3 linked regions of the Homo sapiens genome follow. The protein of the gene in region 1 interacts with the protein of each later gene in a pairwise test. Each region holds a gene or a part of one and is shown in the gene's direction. Other genes may lie near its edges.

Region 1 (7,488 bases):
CCATGTTAGTCAGGCTGGTCTCCAACCCCTGACCTCAGGTGATCCACCCATGTCAGCTTCCTAAAGTGCTGGGATTACAGGTGTGAGCCACCACACCTGGCCTCATTTATTTTATTTATTTTTTTTGAGACAGAGTCTTGTTCTGTCACCCAGGCTGGAGTGCAGTGGTGCGATCTCAGCTCACTGCAACCTCTACCTCCTGGGTTCAAGCGATTCTCCTGCCTCAGCCTCCCTAGTAGCTGGAATTACAGGTGCCCACCACCATGCCCAGCTAACTTTTGTATTTTTAGTAGAGACTGGGTTCCACCATGTTGGCCAGGCTGGTCTTGAACTCCTGACCTGAAGTGATCTGCCTGCCTTGGCCTCCCAAAGTTCTGGGATTACAGGTGTGAGCCACTGTTCCTGAACTTCTCATGTATTCTTAATATGAAATTAGTACAAATGAATTTGCAGCATTTTAAAATTCAAACCTCACAACAGTCCATGGTTAAATTCTACCAAAATGTCTTCCATAATACATGTTAGGAATAATTCTTCTCATACTCTCTCTTGGCAGAGAGACTGATAATGGAGACACACTTGGTTTGTGTATTAGGTATCCACTGTGGGTATCTGATCCTGCGTCAAAATTTTGTTCCAGGTTCTTCTCATTAAGGTTTGTAAGTAATCTGCTCCCAAATACATGGTCAGAAATTAAAGGGCAAGCAGTTTTGACCTCATTCTGCCTAATAGGGTAAGTTAGGCGTCATAAGAGTGCTGGGACTCCCTTCAACTTGTCTGCTTTTAGCTGGTTCTATTTTTAAACCATGTTGAAACTAATTCTTTTTTTTTTTTAGGTGGAGTCTTGCTCTGTCGCCCAGACTGGAGTGCAGTGGTGCAATCTCAGCTCACTGCAACCTCTGCCTCCCGGGCTCAAGCAATTCTCCTGCCTCAGCCTCCCGAGCAACTTGGATTACAGGCACATGCCACCACACCTGGCTAATTTTTGTATTTTTAGTAGAGATGGGGTTTCACCATGTTGGCCAGGCTGATCTTGAACTCCTGACCTCAAGTGATCCGTCTGCCTCGGCCTCCCAAAGTGCTGGGATTACAGATGTGAGCCACCACTCCCGGCCTAATTCTGAGTCTTAAAGGTCGACTGACAAATTTGTTTTTGAGTTGCTTAATTTTACCTAAATTGCCCAAATGCCTGCTTGATGTGTTGAGTGTGTTTTCTTCCTGCTCTTATCCTAAGACTTTCTCAGTTTTCAATGACACAGGTTCTATGAATTCCCTTCATTTATCACTTCTGTTCTTTGTTGTCACGTTTACATTTTTAGGTTAAATCTTCGTGAACTTGGACCCCTGGCATCTCATATGCGTTGGTTTATCTGGCTCATGGCAGCTGGAGGAACCATTTATGTATTTCTCTACCATGAAAAGTAAGAGAAAATAATTTACATTTGATAGTTTTAAAATTGACTGCCTAAATATTATCTGCACTGCAATACAATTTACTTTTATTTGTACTTCAAAACAGTAGAAATACATATATAGAATATGTTATTTTTAATAAATCTTCAAAACCATTTGGTATTCATTATTAGTGGAAAGATTGCTGTGGAAAAACAAGAGTGGTACAGGTTTGGTATAATGTAGTTGAGGGGACATGGTAACCAGCCCCTTTGGAGTCCATCAGACTTCATTTCTATAGCATGAGGCAAATTGGCCTTATTCTCTGTGATTCAGTCATCACGTGAGAAAACCAGCCACTTGTCAAGGTGTCTATGAAGATTGGAGAGAATAGATATTAAGTGCTCAGTACAATATACCTAAATAAGGGCCTAGAGGGTATTCCAAAAAGGGTATCTTGAGAAAAAGGATGTTGGGAAGGACATTGGAACTCTTAATATCCTATCCCTAGGGCACAGCTTTTTAGCCAGTTATTCATAGCTGATAGTCCTAATTATTGAGCCATATAAAAACAAAAGCTAATTGAAATTTAGTATCTTTGCTCTAGAGGAGACCTTCAAGGTCCCCTATTCCAACTTCATGATTAAAAAGTCAGAACATTTAGGATATGCATCAAATTAGTGACTCATCTGGAAATTAGGACCCAAACATCCAAGTTCTGATTCCATTGCTCTTTTTATTACCCTGTATGTTTGAATTTGAGAAACACACAACCAGGAAATCTTTGTCATTGGGTTTATTTACAGTTCATTAAATTCTGTATCTATTGTGCTTGGCAGAATGGCTCTCAGAATTGAACATAATTTGTGTTTATCAGAAAATACTAAATTGTTTTCCCCTTTCAGAAGAAGAAAATGGTAGTTTTCACTAACTTCTTTTTGTCTCTGAAATTCACTTAAATACCTTTTTGACCATAATTAGCAATGCTGAGTAGTGTTATATATTATAGCATATTTAAGTCCAAGGGAATGGTTTGCTTCTTGGACTCAAATCTCTTATTTATATCCTTGGATAAAATAGGAAGTCAAGAAAGGCAACTATCTTTTCTCCTTTTCCCGGCCTTCTGGTGTAAACAAAACCCATAAACCCATTCTTCCCCTATCTGATTATTTCATGGTAGGCTTTGAGTATAAAACACGATGAATGAGGTATGAGTCACCCTTGGCCATTCAGTTTGGCAGACATTAGGGAGTACCTAAATTGTATCAGGTACTGTTCTAGGATTTACAGATCAAAACATAATTAATCTTGGTTCCTGCCTTTGAGGAGCTTATCGTCTGGTTTGATTAGGCTGAAATGTAATTTGAATTTCAATACAATGTATTTCTTAGGGTTTTTAGATCTTTTGTAGTCTAACGTGATGAGCCTTAAAATTACAGTTTGTGCAGGTGCAAAATAAAGAGACAAACAAAATTACACGTCCTTTCCTTAGGGCTTGCTGTTCCTTTTTGCTGATAAACTAGGCTCCAGGCTGCATCTCCATTCATCTTCAGAATTTCACTTCTAGCTCTGGATTGGAATGGTAATGAAAGCAGACACTCTAGGATCAGAAGAGGAAATATTTTACAAGGTGGAGTGGGTTAAACGATAACTACTTTTGGCAGAAAACATTTTCTTTTTTTTTTCTTTTCTTTTTTTTTTTTTTTTTGAGACTGAGTCTCGCTCTGTCACCCAGACTGGATGGAGTGCAGTGGTGCGATCTCGGCTCACTGCAAGCCCCGCCTCCCGGGTTCACGCCATTCGGGTTCACGCCATTCTCCTGCCTCATCTCCCCGAGTAGCTGGGACTACAGGCGCTCGCCACGCCCAGCTAATTTTTTGTATTTTTAGTAGGGACGGGTTTCACCGTGTTAATCAGGATGGTCTCGATCTCCTGACCTCGTGATCCGCCCGCCTCGGCTTCCCAAAGTGCTGGGATTACAGGCATGAGCCACCGTGCCCGGCCGGCAGAAAACATTTTCTAGGTGGCATGTGGGATTTGATGCCTTTTCAACCCTGAGAGAAATGCTAGTTCCTTGTTACTCAGCTACTGTGTTTTAGTTAGAGGCCTAGTGGTTGCCTACTGAGAAATAAAGTTTTATTTGAATAGTTAAGAGTTTACATTTCTTTCTCAAAAGTAAAAAGGAAAGGCTGGTATGTAAATTGTTAGGTGTTATAGAAATTTATAAGTTAAATTAACTGCATTTTTGTTCCTGCAGATATAAGGTGGTTGAACTCTTTTTCTATCTCACAATGGGATTCTCTCCAGCCTTGGTGGTGACATCAATGGTAAGACATGGCTTCAGAATTTTAGTTATTTTCTTTTAAGCTGCTGGAACTTAACATGATTATGGATATGATATGTAGCTTTTCTTTATAAAGTTATGTCCATTAAATAGAGGCTCAAAAGAAAAAGAACTTATAAATAATGAAGTGTTTAGCTTGGCATGGTGGCATGTGCCTGTGGTCCCAGCTACATGGGAGGCTGAGGCAGGAGGATTGCTTGAGCCCAGGAGGTTGAGGCTGTGGTGAGCTGTGTTCATGCCCTACAGCCTGAGGAACAGAGCGAGACCCTGTCTCAAAAAAATAATAAAAATAATGAAGTGTGCCAGCAACTCGTAAGCTTGCACTAGGTACCGTGTACAGTTTGGGAAAGCTATAAATTCAGGTATGTTTCTGTCTTTATGGTACTTTCCTGAATCAGAACCAGAATAGGTTCAGAGAGGTATTTTTCAAATCCCTTTACTCTTACTTTTCCTTTCCCTTGCTTTTAAGTCGTAAGTCAAGCACTTTTTTTGTTTGTTTGTTCTGTTTTCTAAGGCAAGCACTTTTTTTTTTCTTTTACTTTGCTTGAAAATATCTTTTGGGGATTTTCGTGGGTAAAGTGTAACATTACCTGTAATAGGCAGTTGCATGTATATATTTGAATTCCCTTTCAAATTGAATTACTGTTGAGAAGTCTGTGTGTGTCTGTCTTTTTGAAATGAAAATATATTATTACGACTTCATGGTTCCATCCACCTGGTTACCAGCCCTTTAGCTTATATATTGCAGTATCTTAGGCTCTAGGCACTATATTAACTAAGGAGGTCCCAAGGTGTTTCGTTTGAACCCTTCTGAGCCTACATTGTTCAGAAGAACTGTACTTAGGATTTCACTCCTAATCTCATAGGCACATTGTAAGAACCTTTTTTTTTTTTTCTTTTTTTTGAGACAAAGTCTTGCTCTGTTGCCCAGCTGGAGTGCAGTAGAGCGATCTTGGCTCACTGCAACCTCCGCCTCCTGAGTTCAAGTGATTCTCCCACCTCAGCCTCCTAAGTAGCTGAGATTACAGATGCGGGCTGCAACCCTTGGCTAATTTTTTGTATTTTTAGTAGAGATGGGGTTTCACCAAGTTGGCTAGTCTGTTCTTGAACTCCTGAGCTCAGGTGATCCACCTGCCTCGGCCTCCCAAAGTGCTGAGATTATATGCGTAAGCCATCACGCCTGGCTGTAAGAACATAATTCTGTGATAGTTTTTTTCCTGGTCACAAAAACACCTATAAAAGGTTTAAAAGTTTCAAATCTGGTTCTGTTTTTTCAGGGGATGTCTTCATGAGAATATAACAAAATATATTTCTTTGAGATACGAGGTTTATGATGGCTTTAATAATTACCTAGCACCCAAAATACATATAGATGGTAAAAGCAACAGGGAATGGTAAGGAGGAGGAGTTAAAGGACAGAAATGAGAAAATCAGCCTTGAAGGCCATATAGTTAGAAGGCATTTCAGGACACCCCAAGCAATATAAGCAAGGTTTGTGCAGCTTAATAGAGTAGAATTTCAAGCAAATTCCCTCTGGGTATCATAAGAGCAGGTTTATCCAGTAATTTTACTAGCCTAAATTTGAAATTGACATTTCCATAAGTGGTACAATAGCAGGTGACTAATGTTTGTGATAATCAAGCAGGATGATCCCCCACACTGCCTTCATAGAACTTAGAGTCAAGCAGGCAAATGCAGTTCCTATTAAAGAAAAAGAGATCATGAAATTTGATAAAATATTTGATGGGGGAAAGTTCAGGCTGCTATGCGAACATGACAGAAGTACCAGAGGAAGTGATATTTCAGCTGATTTGGAAAAACATGTAGAAGCTGAGAGATGGTAGGGGTGAGGCAAGTGTTACAGGTAGAGAATACAGCATGAAGGAAGCCCAGAGAAGGGGGAAGCACCAGCATCTTTGGAGAAATGAAAATAGCTCATTGTTTGTAACATAAAATACATGTACCAGCTTGAGTTATGTACATATGCATGGTGGGGGCAGGTATGCAGGTAGCACAAGTCTTGTAATAAAGCTGGAGAGCTAGACAAGAGTCCAGATCACAAAGGACCTCAAAAGCCACTAACACAGTAACAGAATGAATGAAAATGCGAATCTTTGGTTCTGGCCAGAATCATGGGTCTCAGACTTACCCTTCTGCCATAAAGAACTGTAAAACTAGAAAAAGAATAAAGGCAACTGTTTTTTTGGCTCTGAACCCAAACAGTACAGGACTGTGATCCTTGAAGGAAGAGAAACCAAGAAAATGAGCTTTGAATTCACCCCAGTAGTTTCCCTGGAGACACTTTCCAAACAGCAACAAAAGGAGGTAAAGCCCAGAGAACAGCAGCCTGGGTGGAGGAAACAGAAATTACAGTTCAGGTTACTGACATGGCTGCAGTTTGTGGGGCAGGGTATGGAAGAGGAGGAAGCCGCTCAGGGAGGATGCTTCAGAAATCCATGAAGCAGTTTCCGTGAGTCGTTGTCCAGATATCAAGCTGAATGTTGTACGGGCCAAAACTCTGCAAGCTCCAGTTGCAAATAACTCTTAGAAGGCTGGAAGATAAATGGAAATTCCGGACAGTTCCCAGTGCTGAAAGACATTGAAGTTCCAACCAAGCAGAGTTCAGAGATGGTGCTGGACATCCCAGGCACTCAGCTGACCCTGCCAAGGCCACAGCTTAGGAGTAGAGCTACTCTATCCCTAGAGGGAGGGCTACTCTAGAACTGCCATAACAAGGCCCAGACAAACCTTGAAAGGATAAAATTGATCCTCCAGTAAATAAACCGCCTAACAGAACAAAACTCAACAATTTTTAAAGGAATACAACAGAATCTTTACTGTAACAACTTAGCATGTACCATAAGTAAATATTATCAGAAATAAATCAATAATAATGTAATAAAATAAATAATAAATATATAATAAATATTACCAGATGGGCAAGAAACTGGAAAGTGACACATACCTAAGGGAAAACAGATCAATAGACACAGATCAAAAGACGGGAGAGATACTGAGATTCACACACAGGGAGTTTAAAACAGATGAGGAATCTCAGAAAATACCTGGAGACTATGAAGAAGAATCCACATGGAGATTCTAGATCCGAAAACTGTGATGTCTTAAGAAAAAAAAATTATTGGAGGGATTTAATAACAGATTGGATATTGCAGAAGCAAAGTTCAGTGAACTTGAAGCCAGGTCTGTAGAAACTATACAAACTGAAGCATGAGAGAAAAGAGTGATTTAAAAATGAACAAAAGAAGAAAGAAATTGGGGCAGTTTTTTGTTTTGGGTTTTCTGTTTTACAGTTTTTCTTTTCTTTTTTTTTTTTTTTTTTGAAGAAATAATAGTTACAACTTTTCCAAATTTGATGAAAAATATCAACCTAGAGATCCACAAAGCACGAGGAGGCCTGAGCAGTATAAACACAAAGAAAACTACACTAAGACACATTAAAGTCAAATTACTAAAAAACAAAGGCAAAGACAAGACCTTAAAATCAGCCAGAGAGAGAAAAAAGAGCAAGGAGAGAAGATGACCACTGACATTTTATCAGAATTCATGGGAGCAGGAATACAATGTAATGGCACATTTAAAATGCTGAAAGGGTCCGGGTGCTGTGGCTCACGCATGTAATCCCAGCACGTTGGAGGCTGAGGCGGGTGGATCATGTGAAGTCAGGAGTTCAAGACCAGCCTGGCCAACATGGTGAAACCCTGTCTCTACTAAAAATACAAAAATTAGCTGAA
Region 2 (7,488 bases), on another chromosome or scaffold:
CTGGTGTTCTGGGCTGCCCTGGAACCCTAAGAGACCTCAACCCAAGGCCCAGTCCTGGAGGAACCCCCAACTTTAAGGAGATGGACCTGGATAGAGATATCCCCAACTTCATGGGATCAGGAAAGGGCCAGAGGGAGATGGATCACAGCCCAGGGAAGAACAAGGTCTCTGCTGGGGCAGGCTGGAAGGCTTCCTAGAGGAGGAGTTACTGGAGCTGTGTCTGGAACAATGAGTAGGAATGTTTGAAAGGAGAGTGCAGGGTGAGGCAATTGGACATCGTTAGTATTCAAGGCCCCTTGCCAGGCCTAGCATCACCTTGCCTGTCCCAAAGCCTAGAACAATGAGGAGGACTTGTGGCTGGTGGGGGATCTGGGCTGCTACTTCCATGATGTCCACCTCTGGTGGGTCAATTCCCTTTACCCCATCCTATAGCTTGTCTGCCCTAAGTTCGTTGCTCTCCTGCTGCAGGTCCCGGGGATCTCCAAGAGGAGACTCCACCCCAGCTTGGGTCCCTTTCCTTGACCCCTGTGCTTCCCATCGTTGGACGGGCGAGGCTGAGCAGGGGGAATGGGCAGCATCCTACAGAGACCATGGCTCTGACCTCAAAATGCTGAGTGACTCTGGGCTGGTACCCAGCTGTCTCTGGTTATTGAAGTCTCTTTCAGTTGTGAGTGGTGGAAACCCAACCTGGTGTGGTCTAAGCAAAGAAAGATAATCTATTGACTTTAAAGTCCAGGGAGGGTGGCCTTCAGGCATGGCTGGATCCAGGTCTCACACAAGGTCACTGGAAATCTGTCTTTCTCTCTTGGCTTTAGCTTTCTCCATGTCGCTTTTCCTATCAAGGTGGCCTTTTCCTCATGATGTCAACGATGAGTCCCAGAAGCTCAGTTCTTATGGGAAAGGCCACCTTTCCCCTAGAGTTCCCAGAAATGGCCCATGGTTTACTTCTCCTGGCCTGGATCACAGGACCAATTTTTCACCCAATCCCTGTGTCTCTGATTGCCCAGTCTTGGTAGGCCTGGGTCTTCCAGAGCTACTGTTTTGGGGGCACAAAGAAGTTTGTTGGTTAAGGATTCAGGCCATGGGTGCAGACAGACCTAGTCTTAGGCCTCAGGCTTGCCGTGGTCTGGGACTGTGGGCAAGTGACTTTATTGTTCAGAGCCTCAGGCTCTTCATCTGGAAAATGGGATGAATGAGAGCCCAGGGAACATGGTGTGTGGATCCACATGGGGAAAGACCTTTTCTGTCTGTGTAACTGAAGGACTGGAGAGTCCTGCATGGAGGATGTGAGGAGGCAGGGGGTGCTCAGCACTGACAGGAGGATGAGATGCTGCTTGAAATTCTCAGGGAGAGGGCTTCGACCTCTTCCCTGCAGATCCTTCTCTCTCACAGCCTAGGAGAGCATGAATTGGGTCCTGTGTGTTTTTCTCCAGATTCACAGCTCAGAAGAAGGTCTCCTATACACACAAAGCCTGGCGTGCACCTTTGGGGATATGGGCTGCTGGTGGGTGGGGCCCTGGCAGGCAGTCATCCACATCTTTCTCCCCACGTGCATCAAGCCTGTGCTCTTTGCTCCAGGTAGACATCGCACTGGCCAAGCTTTGCCCACAGCTGGGGTTGCTGTGCTGCCTCCAGCTGAACACGTGACCGATGTGCAGACAGGAGGGGCTGTGGTGGAGATGCCATTGCCTCCATCGCCCCTGGACTTCCACCTGTCTAACCTCTGTTGCTGTTTGCTCATGTCTGGGGCGTGTCTCTACAATGGCTGTTATATGGCCAGGTCTGCCTTGTATATTTACACCTGGGTCCTGGTTACACCTGAAATATGTTATACCTGGTTACATCTGGTATATAATTCCAACTGGGGTCATGTAGAGCTGGTCAAGTTTGGGGCTTATCTGTGGCCAAGGACATTTGGGGCATGTGAGGGCCTGTTTGGTTCTTGTCTCAGGTGCTGTTTGACACTGCCGTTTTCTCCTGGTGGTCCAAACATCTGGGCGTTGTGTGAGGTCTGGGGGTTGTGTGAGGTCTGGGACCCAGGGTCCCTATGTGAACTGTCTGAGACATTATTTGAGTCTTGTCTGAGGCATGTGTTATAGTATATTTGGGTCATGCCTGAGGAACAGTCTGGTTCACATGTTGGCTATGTCTGTGACATTAAAGGTACCATATTTATATTCAACCCAGAGCCTGTATGTGGAACACGCTTTTAAGATCATGTTAGACCATCTCATGTGCATGTTAGAGCACACCATCTCATGTTAGGAATTGTCATGTATTTTGTGGCCATGTCAGGACATGTGAACACATGTCAGGGTCATGTCTCATGTCCAGGTCCATGTCAGAAGATGCCATATCAGAAGATGTCAGAGAGTGCTGGGACAGACAGGGTGTCCTAGGTCCTTGTGAAGCATTCTGTAGAATGCTGAGCTGTGCTCAGGGGTTGCGGAACATGTTGGATCGTGTAGGAGGCATGTCAAGGCATGCTGGAACCCTGACATAGCTCCTACACGCCATGTTAGGCAGTGTCATTGCTGTACTGTGCTGCTGTAGCCTGGTCTGGTCTTCCCTCCCCTCCCCATCCTCCCTTCTTCCTCTGCCCTTGGCCCTCTTCCTGCTATGTGGGGCTCAGAGTGGGAGAAGTGCAAACCTCTTGCTGGGAGCCTCCACCCACCCCCAAAGTCCCTCTTTCACCTGCCTCCATGGCCCCTGATTGTCCTCATTTATGTCAGCTGCCATTGCACCAAAGGACAAGTTCTTCTACAGCTTCCTGGAGCCCTGGCTGGGTGAGTATCTGCAGGTGAACAGGGTTGGGAAAAACGTTGGGGGGCCAGGGGAGGGAGAGGTCCTTGCCCATGGCCCTTGGCTGCCCTGCTAGGGGATGGGCTCCTGCTGAGTGCTGGTGACAAGTGGAGCCGCCACCGTCGGATGCTGACGCCTGCCTTCCATTTCAACATCCTGAAGCCCTATATGAAGATTTTCAATGAGAGTGTGAACATCATGCACGTGAGTTATTTGAAGCCAAGGTCCCACTTGCAGCCTTGGGGTGAAAGGACAACAGAGAGATCTAGTCTGGAGTTTTGGCTCTGCTGGGTGCCATTGGGCCATTGCTCTTTCTCACTGAGCCTTGGTTTCCTCATCTGTAAAATGGGGATAATAATCCCTACTTAAAAGATGGTCAGAGTAATGTAATGGAGTCACGTCTCTGGTGCATAGCAGGTGCCCAGAAGGTGTCTGTTTCTATGTTTCCATCACCAAAGCCCTGTAAACACAAGAGGGTCATGACAACAATTTCATAGTAGCTGTTGCTGATAAGAAACCACCTGAAAACTCATTGGTTTAAACCAATAAGTGTTTATGTTTGCTAATAAGTCTTTGGGACAGTTGGCAGGTTCTTCTGTATATGGAAGGGACCACTCATGGTACATGAGCAGCTGGGGGTCAGGTAGGCAGCCTTGCAGGTGTTGACTGAATTCTGCCACATGTTTGGGTTTTGGCTGGGACATGTTTGGGTTCTCTCACGTGTCTAGGTTTGGCCTCATCTGGGACCCCTGGATGTTCCTCCCTATGATTGTCTCCTTCCAGAAGGCGCGCCATGGTTCACAATGCAGGCAGGGTTCCAAGGAGTAAGACAAGGCTTAGCTTCGTTAGTTATTAACTCATCATTTTCACCACATTGTATTTTGACATCGAAAGCCAAAAGTCCAACACAGAATCAAAGGCAGGGGGATAAAATAGGCTCTGTCTATTAATGGGAGTTGCTGAAAAATCACATTGCAAAGGGTGTGGATATGGCAGGAAGGGAAGAATTGTGGCAAAGGTTTTGCGAAGTATCTAGGATTTTTTTTTTAACTTGCAAATTGATAAGTTAGCTTGTTACTGTTTCATAAATTCTTCCAGAAGGACGAGAGACTCCTGGGTCAGAGACAAAGGATAGTTTACTACTCATGACACAGACAGCAGCATGTGTTTCTTGTTAGATTGCCTTTTTTCCCTCCAAGCTTCCCAAATCCCATGGGCTGACACAGGTGGGCTTCTATAAGTGCCTGCTGACATCATATATTGCATTACAGAAGAGGAGCTTTAAGCTTAGGGAATCTGCTTTTATAGAAAGCAAAAGCAACATGTCTAGAGGGAGTCTTTACCTTATCCCTCAAAGTTTTTCTTCGCAAACACAACTCTGAGAAATTTTCCATGTTAAGGACATCAGTGTCTTGCATTCATGACATGCCCAGAAAGAATGCTCAGGACTCAACGAAGGACTACCTCCCCCAAAACAGGGATATTTTTGAAATCAATTTATAACAATGCAGACGGGGAAATCCAACATTTATTGATCACATACCATATGCCAGAAACAATGCCATGTGCCCATTCCATGATACGAGTATGTATTGTCTAATTTGATTTTAACAGCTCTGCGAAGGAGAGATTATGTATTTTTGCCCCATGGTAGATGATGAAACTGCAGGTCTGAGAGATTAGGGAACTAACCCAAGTTCACCCAGCTAATAAGTGAGCATGGCGAGGTGGAGCAGAGTTTCTAATGTGAATTATATGGCTCCAAAGCACATCATCTTAACTGTTTCTGAAGATTTGACAGGCAGGATATAGGGGAGGGTAATGAGTTGACTAATGGCACACAGAGCACAGGGGACAGAGCTGGAACTTGAACCTAGTTCTCCTAACTCCCAATCTTGGGTCTTCATCTCTTAATAGTAACAGCTTTTGTTTGCACCATAACCTGGTGCTCCCTGGGGAGGGGTCCCTGGGGAGAAGATGAAGAGGCTTATTCTGGGGAGCCCATCTTGGCAGTTGGGGTTGGAGAGGTGCTCAAGGGAGCAAGGAGCCTGCCCCAGCTCTGTCCCCTTCTCTGGCTAGGCCAAGTGGCAGCTCCTGGCCTCAGAGGGTAGTGCCTGTTTGGATATGTTTGAGCACATCAGCCTCATGACCTTGGACAGTCTACAGAAATGTGTCTTCAGCTTTGACAGCCATTGTCAGGAGTAAGTTCTTGCCCAGGATCTGGGATCTTGGGCTGTGGACCCAAAGTGGGTAGGTGGGAGAGGGAGGACTAAGCAGGGAAACCAGACAAACCTTCCTGGAGGAGTTTTGTTATACCTGATCATTGAAGGACTGGTATGAACTTTATCTTGAGGTTTCCAGGGAGCCATTGAAGGGGTTTGAACTGGTGGGTGTGGTCAGAGCTCTGTAGGGGACTGACTAATGTAGCACTAAATGGAGTTAACACTGATGCAAAGAGGCTAGGGTGAAAGCTAGACCATGGACCAGTTGCAGGAGGATAAAGTCTGAGCTTTGTGGACAGTTTCAAGGAGACGGGTCAGGACTGTATACTGGGAGGGAAAGAGAGAATAGGAGAATAATGTGCAAGCTATGCTCTGGGTGCCTAGCGGCATGGAGGCATCTCACAGAGATGGGATGCAGGGAGAGAAGAGAGCTTGGAGAATCAATCTCATGCTGATCCCCACCCTGTATCTGTGGGGTCATCTGTTCCTGGATACTCTGTTTACTGATAGGAGGTAGATCCTGGCTGCTGGTGGGAGGTGATCCTGGGGCTTCAGGTATATTAAATTGTTGCCTCCCTTTCTGCCCTTATCCTGCAGGAAACCCAGTGAATATATTGCCGCCATCTTGGAGCTCAGTGCCCTTGTATCAAAAAGACACCATGAGATCCTCCTGCATATTGACTTCCTGTATTATCTCACCCCTGATGGGCAGCGTTTCCGCAGGGCCTGCCGCCTGGTGCACGACTTCACAGATGCCGTCATCCAGGAGCGGCGCCGCACTCTCCCTAGCCAGGGTGTTGATGACTTCCTCCAAGCCAAGGCCAAATCCAAGACTTTGGACTTCATTGATGTACTCCTGCTGAGCAAGGTGGGCCTCTCTGGGATCTGAATTCAAGAAGTAGAAGGGAGCTTCATGTGAAATGTCAGATGAAAGGATTTGAACTTGATTAAGAGGGCACTAGGGAGCCATGGAAGGTGATTGAGGAAGGGAGGGACAGGTCAGAGATAGGTTTTAGAGATGACTGTGGAGTGCACCTAGCAGGGAGCTGCTAGGCTTGAAACTGACAAGTCTGAGAGTTTGCTCTATTTACAAACTAATGAGTTAATTGTCCACATTTAACTCCATACATCTACATCTATATCTATGTCTGGTCTATGTTTATGTTTTTGCCTATGTCTTTCTATATCTTTGTCTCTGTTTGAGTTTGTGTCTCTATGACTGTGACTATGTGTATGTCTTTGTCTTTGTAATTGGCCATATCTGTATGTCTTTTTATCTATGTCTTCATCTTTGTCTATGTCTACGCCTTTGTCCTGTCTTTTCTATGTCTCTGTTTATGTCTTTGTCTCTGTCTATATTTTCATCCATGTCTATGTGTATGTGTATATCTGTGTCTGCGTCTATGCCTTTGTCTTTTTTCTGTGTTTGTGTCTTTGTCTCAGTGTATGTCTATGTCCATGTTTTTTGTCTGTGTCTATGACTATGTCTTCGTCTATGGCTATGTCTATGTCAATGCTATGTCTATATCTTTGTCTGTGCCTGTGCTTGTGTCTGTTTCTGTCTATGTCTATGTTTATGTCTATCAGTAGTTGTGTCTGAGTGTGTGTCATGTCTATGTTTATGTGTATTTTTGTGTCTGTGTTTCTAAGTCTGTGACTTAGTCTATGTATGTGTGCGTCTGTGTCTATATCTGTGTCTATGTCTATGTTTATGTGTACTTGTGTGTCTGTGTTTCTAAGTCTGTGACTTTGTCTATGTGCGTGTGTGTCTGTGTCTATGTCTATGTGTATTTGTATTTGTGTGTCTGTGTTTCTAAGTCTGTGACTTCATCTATGTGTGTGCGTCTGTATCTATATCTGTGTCTATGTCTATGTTTATGTGTACTTGTGTGTCTGTGTTTCTAAGTTTGTGACTTTGTCTATGTGCGTGTGTGTCTGTGTCTATGTCTATGTTTATGTGTATTTGTGTGTCTGTGTTTCTAAGTCTGTGACTTCATCTATGTGTGTGCGTCTGTGTCTATCTGTGTCTATGTTTATGTGTATTTGTATTTGTGTGCCTGTGTTTCTAAGTCTGTGACTTTGTCTATGTGTGTGTGTCTATGTCTATGTTTGTTTATGTGTATTTGTGTGTCTGTGTTTCTAAATCTGTGACTTCATCTATGTGTGTTTGTGTCTGTGTCTATGTCTGTGTTTATGTGTATTTGTGTGTCCATGTTTCTAAGTCTGTGACAGTCTATGTGTGTGTGTGTCTGTGTCTATATCTATATCTGTGTCTATGTCTATGTTTACGTGTATTTGTGTGTCTGTGTTTCTAAGTCTGTGACTTTGTCTATGTGTGTGTGTGTCTGTGTCTATATCTGTGTCTATGTCTAGGTTTATGTGTATTTGTGTGCCTGTGTTTCTAAGTCTGTGACTTAGTCTATGTGTGCGTGTGTCTGTGTCTATGTCTATGTTTATGTGTGTT
Region 3 (7,000 bases), on another chromosome or scaffold:
CACCTCAGCCTCCCAAAGTGCTGGGATTACAGGTGTGAGCCACCGCGCCTGGCACATGGGTGTTTTAAAGTTAGTAGAATAGTGGGATCTGCATGGGAGGGGAGAACATGGCAGTGGGAAAGGCAGGAGGCCTTGATTCTCCATGTCTTCCTGATGCTAGGCAGGCCCAACGTCTCCATGCAGAACTATCCTGGAACAGGGAAGCATATGCAACACAAATCCATTGCTGAGTGGAAATAGAATGAATCTAATGCTTTGCACAGAATTCAACTCTCTGATCTATAATTCGATCTCCTGTGTGGCCATGCCCATAAAAAAGGCCACTATATGCAGATGACCAGCCCAACAGAAATCAGGGAATTTGGTTTTTAGGCTCCTTGAGTTAGTGTGATTGTCCTTGGCAGACACATCTTCTCTGGCCTCCAAGGGTCAGAATTGAGTTTCAAAGTCAGACAGAACTGTGAAGGCTGTGTCATCTTGGGCATGGTACTAAATTTCTCCGAGCGGCTCTATAAAACAGGGGAAAAGATCTTGGAGGGCTGTCATAAGGAGTTAGCAATCTAACAATGCATGGAAAGCCTAGTGTCTGGGTGTTCCGTCATGTCCCCTGGACAGTGGACAGCAGTGACTGACCGGCTGTCTCACACCTGCCTGGCCCTAGTGAAACAAACTGGGCAATCAGACCCTTTCATAACTCTTTCAAAATACGGTAGTTTTGACCAACAGCTTTCCAGCTTAATAACGCAGTTATCATTGGTACTCTTTAGCCAAGATTAAAGGTCTTTGTACTAATTCCTCATAAAGCACATTCCCTGCTAACTTGTTTTCTACAAAATTTTGGAAAATTCTTTTTTTCTCCAGCAGTTAAGCATTTTCTTAGCATGCAGCTAAAAATTTGAAATAAAATTTATCTTGGAGATAAATTCTTTTTCTTACATGTTTCTGATGATCTTCAGGAAGCTCAGGAGCCATTCCTGGCCCCAGGAGCTGCATTTATGCACGGGACTGTGGCCAGTGAGGACAGGAGCTTCCACTCGTGGAAAACCAGCTTGTTAATAATGATCCCACTTTTGTTTGGTAACTTAATAAAGATTAATAAAGGCCTCTTATACTCTTCAGTTTGCTGATCCTACCAACTCTATGAGCCAACTCTTACCTGTGTTTTATAGATGACAGAATTGAGGCTCAGAGGTGTAAAGTAATTCACCCAGTCACATGTCTAGAAAGGAAATGATAGAATCAGGACTGAAATCTAGATTATATTTGCTTAAATCCGGTTCTCATTCCATAGGTTATCAGGGTAGATGCTCGGGAAATTACACCACAGGGCGGGGGGCCTCCATCAGCAAAAACCAGCCAGAAAAAAACAGCTGTGTGTTCGGTCTTTCCAAACCCAGGACCAAGCCAGTGTTGAGTACATAAGAGGCCTTCAGTGGATATGGAAGGCGTAAGTTAATTTTGTTGGTGAATGAATAAATAAAAAGACTTTGAGAAATCTATTGGGATGAGGCTCCATGAAACTATATTTACTCAAAACCTTAGTTAAAAGATTGAATTTAAACAGTTTTTAATTTCTCTATGAAATTATTTCCGTCTCTTTTTAGGGGTAAAATAATTTTTCAACATATATCATCTCTAAAATAATCTGTTCACTCAAATGCAGTATAATGTCATAATTATTAACAGTTCCAGGTAGCCGACATCATTGTGAGAATGTCTTTATGTGATAAAACCTCAAAGTCATTTTTCTTCTTAGCATAAGTGGCATCAGCCAACCACAGAATTTTTTTAAGTCCCACTTTTTTCTCATACCCCACCAAAATTTCTTAATACCGTTAAAATCCAAAAATTTCTTTAAAATCATTCATGAAAAAGATTCTTAGAATTAACACCTCAGTTGTCCGAGCACCAGGAAGCCACATTACAGCTAGTGCAATACACAGAGACCGTCTGTCACCAATCATTTTCTTCTAGCGCGTCTGTTCTAGCCCCTTTCTCTTCCCTCCACACCCCATTGCACCATTTCTTCAGCTCGTGAAAACTGAGCTTGCTGGACATGAGAAACCTGCCAGTGTGCCGCTGTGTAAACCATAACATTTTGCTGCTGCCTTTCTGCAGTCCTGAAGCCAGCTAATAACTGCTCAGTAAGCGCCTCTTCCACAGCTTCCCTAGGTCCCTCTGTGTCTCTGGTGGACTGGGGCCTGCTCCCCTGTCTCCTAGCCTCTCTGAGTGCCTGAAGGCACCACCCCAGCGCTTCTGCATAACTCTCAAAGCCTCAGGTGAACAGGGCAAAGAGAGCACCCTCCCCACTGACTGTCTCCGCACTCTCCCTGGCATCTTTCACTTGCTTCAGGTGCCGTGAAGCTGATGAACCCACACACTCTGGAACACATTCTTTGGCGTCCCGTGTAGTGTGTCCCTCTGAGGGACATTCTTCATGATCCTTGCCGCATCTGCAGTGGGAACGCAAACATCTTGTTCTCCAAAACTTTCTTTTGAAGTATCTGTGGTTTCATGATTATTCCTGTTCCCAGTGTCAGCACAAGGCTGTGCAGCATGACTTCCTCCAGCGCAGTCTGCAGAAATCCGGAGTCGAGAAGCCTCTGTCCTAGCACTGTCCCTATCCTAGGTCATGAAAGACTGTGATTGATGTTCAAGACACCTCTGTAACGAGATGTTTGATCTTTACCCAGTTTCAACCTTCCAGACAAGCCCAGGGGCCATAATTTGCCAGATGGATGGCTGCATAAGCCAGACCATGGAAAAACAAAGGCCATTCCTGCACAATCACCCCCACCCCATGACCTCGTTCCCTCCCCACGATGGTGCCCGCAGCAGTCCCGCCCCACAACCCGGCCCTCCTGACCCGTCAGTACCAGGTGTGCGGGGCACATGCCCTCAGCGCATCTCTGCCTTGCCCGGGGCCAGCAGGTGCACGCCGGAATGCTGCGGACCAACCAAGTGGCCCGGCCAGCCCTGACCCCTGCGGGTGGAAAAGGGTGCACCCTGGGGATCCCCACATAGCGGCCAAGGCCTTAAGGATACCAGCATCTCGCTCCCTGAATAGACTCTAGACACAAAATGGAGCCAGCACAGGGCGCGTCTCGGCGCATCCTCCTCAGCCCAGGCCCCGTGCGTAAGGAGCGCTCCGTGTCAGCGCGCTTGCTAGACCCCATTGATTTTTAGAGACGGGTTTTACTATGTTGCCCAGTGTGGTCTCCAACCTCCTAGGTTCAAGCAGTCCTTCCACCTCAGTCTCCCAAGTAGCCAGGATTACAGGTGCGCACCACCACGCTCAGTGCTGTTGACTTTAATGTGAATAGGAAATAAGTTTTGATGTTTGTTTGTTTTTTAAGTGGGGCTCCTGTTTTTTAAAAATGGATCAATTTACCTGGAGTGCAGGCTGCTCCTGAGCTTGAAGGTGGAAGTCAGTTCATGCGTGAAAGAAGTCTTGCCTAATTGAAACATGGCATCACGGTTAATAATTAAAATGTTATCTGATTTGAGATCAGCTGTTTTTGTGAGAATGCTAATGTGGCATTCCTGATTAGTCTGTATGTTTGTTTGTTTGATTTTTAATTCTGGGTGCAGAGGAACACAGATTATCAAATCCAGTTGGTATTTCTTATGCCACTATAGTACAACTTGAAATCCCTTTTAAGTAGAGGAAACAGTGTTGTATTCATTTCCTATTGCTGTTATAACAAATTACTACATATTTGAGTAGCTTAAAGCAACACAGATATATTATCTTAGAGTTCTGGAGGTCAGAAGTCTAGAACAAGTGGGCCTTCCTTCTGGAGGCTCTAGGGCAGAGCCCCTTTCCCTGCCCTTTCCAGCTGCTAGGGGCTGCAGCTCACAGCCCAGCATCACTCCAACCTCTGCTTGTTCCCACATCTGTTTCTCTGGCTCTGCCTCTTCTGCCTCCTTCCATCTCTTATAGGGAGCCTTGTGATGACATTGGGCCAACCAAATATTCCAGGATCATGCCTGCATCTCTCAAGATCCTTAACTTAATCATATCAGCAAAGTCCCTGCACCATGTGAGGTAACATATTCACAGTAGTAGGTGCTCAATAAATAGATACTAAAGATAGCAGCATTTTTTATTAGACCTTCTCACAGCTTCTGGGGATTAGAATGAGACATCTTTGGCAGCCATTGTTCTCCCCATCATGGGTAACATGCAGTGGGCGCTTCCAGTGCCAGGATTTCGGTGGGTTTAACTGGAGTGTGCAGATAAGTAGTTGGCGTCAAGAACTCCTGCTGCTTCCCTTGCTGGAAAGATGGGGTGGCTTTGAATGACATCCCAGAATCTGATTCTTCCGTCTGCGGAATGTGCATAGGATGTCTGAATCACACTATTGTCGTGAGAAATGAGGTAGAATATTCTCTGATGTGGCAAGCTTAGGCCAGCATCTAGCCCAATTCCTTGTATATAATGGAAATTCTTAAGATGTTAGGGTTCCCCTCTCCCTCTCTCTCCTTTTTCCTCGCCTACAAAGGAAGACATCTTTTGTGAGGCCTCCACAGCATTCTTGATCACTTGTACTTAGAGTAACCTTAAGGTTATTGTAGTATAGAACTTCATAGTGTAAAGGTCAAGTTTTTATTTAAAGGAAAAAAGTGGGGGGGCCTCCAAGATATCATTTCTCTGCAGACATTAATTGGTGTCATACTTCAAGAAAAATGGCTAGAAAAGAGTGGTGAGTGGAAAGCTGGCCAGTGCCCTGGAGGCTGCTCCTGCTTTGAGTTCTCCCGGACTTGTTTCTGCTGCCAGCATCTGCCATGCAACCTGGGCAAGTTATTTCCCCTCTGGACCTCAGCTTCCGCATAATAAGCGCATTGGATAAATCATTTTTCAGACTATCCAGTTCTTATACATGATAATACTTATATTTTATAGAGTAACCATATTTTTGGCTGGGTGCAGGGAATCACACCTGTAATCCCAGCATTTTGGAGGCCAGGGTGGGCAGATCACTTGAGCCCGGGAGTTCGAGACCAGCCTGGGCAATAGAGTGAAACCCTGTCTCTACAACCAGTACAAAAATTTAAAAAAACAGAAACTAGCTGGACATGGTGGCAGACGCCTGTAGTCCTAGCTGCTCGGGAGGCTGAGGTGGGAGGATCACCTGAGCCCAGGACGTCAAGGCTGCAGTGAGCTATGATTGCACCACTGCACTCCAGCCTGGGTGACAGAGTGAGACCCTGTCTCAAAATAAATAAATAAATAATAAAGTAACCAATTCTAAAATGAGACCGTGATGGCGGCAGCTTGCCCTAAAGGTTGCCTTATATTTAACAAATTAGGGATAGTTTGTTATTAGGAACTAGAATTCTATAAAAGCTACATATTAATTTTTGTTTTCATTATTTATGTTAAGCATGAAGGAAAAATAGTGATAGTGAGAATTATAGTTAAAAGGGAAGAGAGATTCCTTGGTATTCAATTTTCTGAGAAAAACCCATATCAGATCTTCACCGGGGAACATCACAGATCACCTAGGCCCGAGGGCAGGCACAGGAGGGTAAAGAAGGGTGCAGGGAAGGAAATGGCTCACGGCCTCATGTACAGCCACAGCCTGGTGTCCGTCCAGCATGAAGTCCACACCCAGAGCCATGCTGAATCCCACGCCCAGCCTTATGCTGGACCTCCTGGATCAGAACCTCTAGAAGGAGGATAGTATTTGTCTTTATAAGAAGCTCTCCAGGTGATTTTGATGTGTTCCATTGGTGCAGAACCATCAGTCTGCACTAGCAGCTTTGCAGGAATAAACGGTTTCCCAAGGAGGGGAGGTTTAACGTGTTGTTCCTCTTGCTACCACCATCATTGCTGTTAAATCCACCTCCTCCCGCTTCACTATCCAGAAATGGAAGTGACCGGCTACCAAGGTGTCTTCCTTTTGGCCAGTCGGGCTACCAATAGATTTACCTCTCATCTTTCAGGATGCCACTCTCTCCTGGTTTTGCACCCACCAGTCACTCCCCAGCCCACTTTGCTGTGCCTTCAGTCCTTTCTGACCTCTTCACACCACAGTCCTTGGATCTCTTTATTTACCTTCACTTCCCTGGTGATCTCATCACATCGCATGACTTTAAATATAATCTCTGTCTGACAACTCCCACGGATAATCTCCAGATTACACTTCTCCCCTGAACTTAGACCTACTTACTCTGCTGCCCGCTGGACATCTCCACTTGCTGCCTCCTGGGTGCCTCACGCTTACTCCGTGCAAATCTGAGCTTCCTGTCTTCTCCCTCGGCCCTCTCCACCTCCAGTTTTTCCAACTAAATACCTCAGGAACCATGCTTTTTCTTTCTCTCACATCCCACATCTAAGATGTCAAGAAATCCTGCTGGCACCATTGAAGAAATACCCAGAATTCCAGTACCTCTTGCCACCTGCGCTGCCCCCCAGCTCTGTCTGGATCTCTGCAGTAACCTTGTCACTGTTCCTCCTGTGTCCGCTCTTATCTCCCCACTGTCTGTTCTCCACACAGCAGCCAGAGAGATCCTTTTAAATTGTGCGTCCGTTCATTTCGGTCCTCTCATCAGAACCTTCCAGTGACTCCCATTTGTTGCAGAGTGAAATGCAAAGGCCTTACAGTGGCTCCATAACCCACATCATCTGACTCCAACCTGAGCCATTACATCTCTTACCTCCTCATCTCCCATCTCCCACTTCCTCACTCCGCCCCAGCTCATGCCTTCTTGCTATTCTTTGAAGACACCAGATGCATTTCTTTTTTTTTTTTTTGAGACGGAGTTTCGCTCTTGTTGCCCAGGCTGGAGTGCAATGGCACGATCTCGGCTCACCGCCATCTCCGCCTCCCAGGTTCAAGCCACTCTCCTGCCTCAGCCTCCCGAGTAGCTGGGATTACATGCATGCACCACCACGCCTGACTAATTTTGTATTTTTAGTAGAGACAGGGTTTCTCCATGTTGAGGCTGGTCTCGAACTCCTGACCTCAGGTGATCCGCCCGCCTCGGCCTTCCA

The links.
Region 2: the proteins of MMD (region 1) and CYP4F2 interact in binary tests that used the Homo sapiens proteins (3 or more experiments, as listed by UniProt).
Region 3: the proteins of MMD (region 1) and SFXN1 interact in binary tests that used the Homo sapiens proteins (3 or more experiments, as listed by UniProt).

What each region holds. Positions count from the first base shown.
Region 1 is NC_000017.11:55,397,700-55,405,187, reverse strand, and holds part of MMD (monocyte to macrophage differentiation factor), read left to right. Parts: intron 1-640; coding exon of another isoform or gene 641-737; exon of another isoform or gene 738-874; intron 875-1,319; coding exon 1,320-1,421; intron 1,422-3,649; coding exon 3,650-3,719; intron 3,720-7,488. UniProt on the Homo sapiens protein: Involved in the dynamics of lysosomal membranes associated with microglial activation following brain lesion.
Region 2 is NC_000019.10:15,887,827-15,895,314, reverse strand, and holds part of CYP4F2 (cytochrome P450 4F2 precursor), read left to right. Parts: intron 1-2,732; coding exon 2,733-2,786; intron 2,787-2,878; coding exon 2,879-3,006; intron 3,007-4,881; coding exon 4,882-5,003; intron 5,004-5,621; coding exon 5,622-5,892; intron 5,893-7,488. UniProt on the Homo sapiens protein: A cytochrome P450 monooxygenase involved in the metabolism of various endogenous substrates, including fatty acids, eicosanoids and vitamins.
Region 3 is NC_000005.10:175,481,560-175,488,559, forward strand, and holds part of SFXN1 (sideroflexin-1), read left to right. Parts: intron 1-7,000. UniProt on the Homo sapiens protein: Amino acid transporter importing serine, an essential substrate of the mitochondrial branch of the one-carbon pathway, into mitochondria.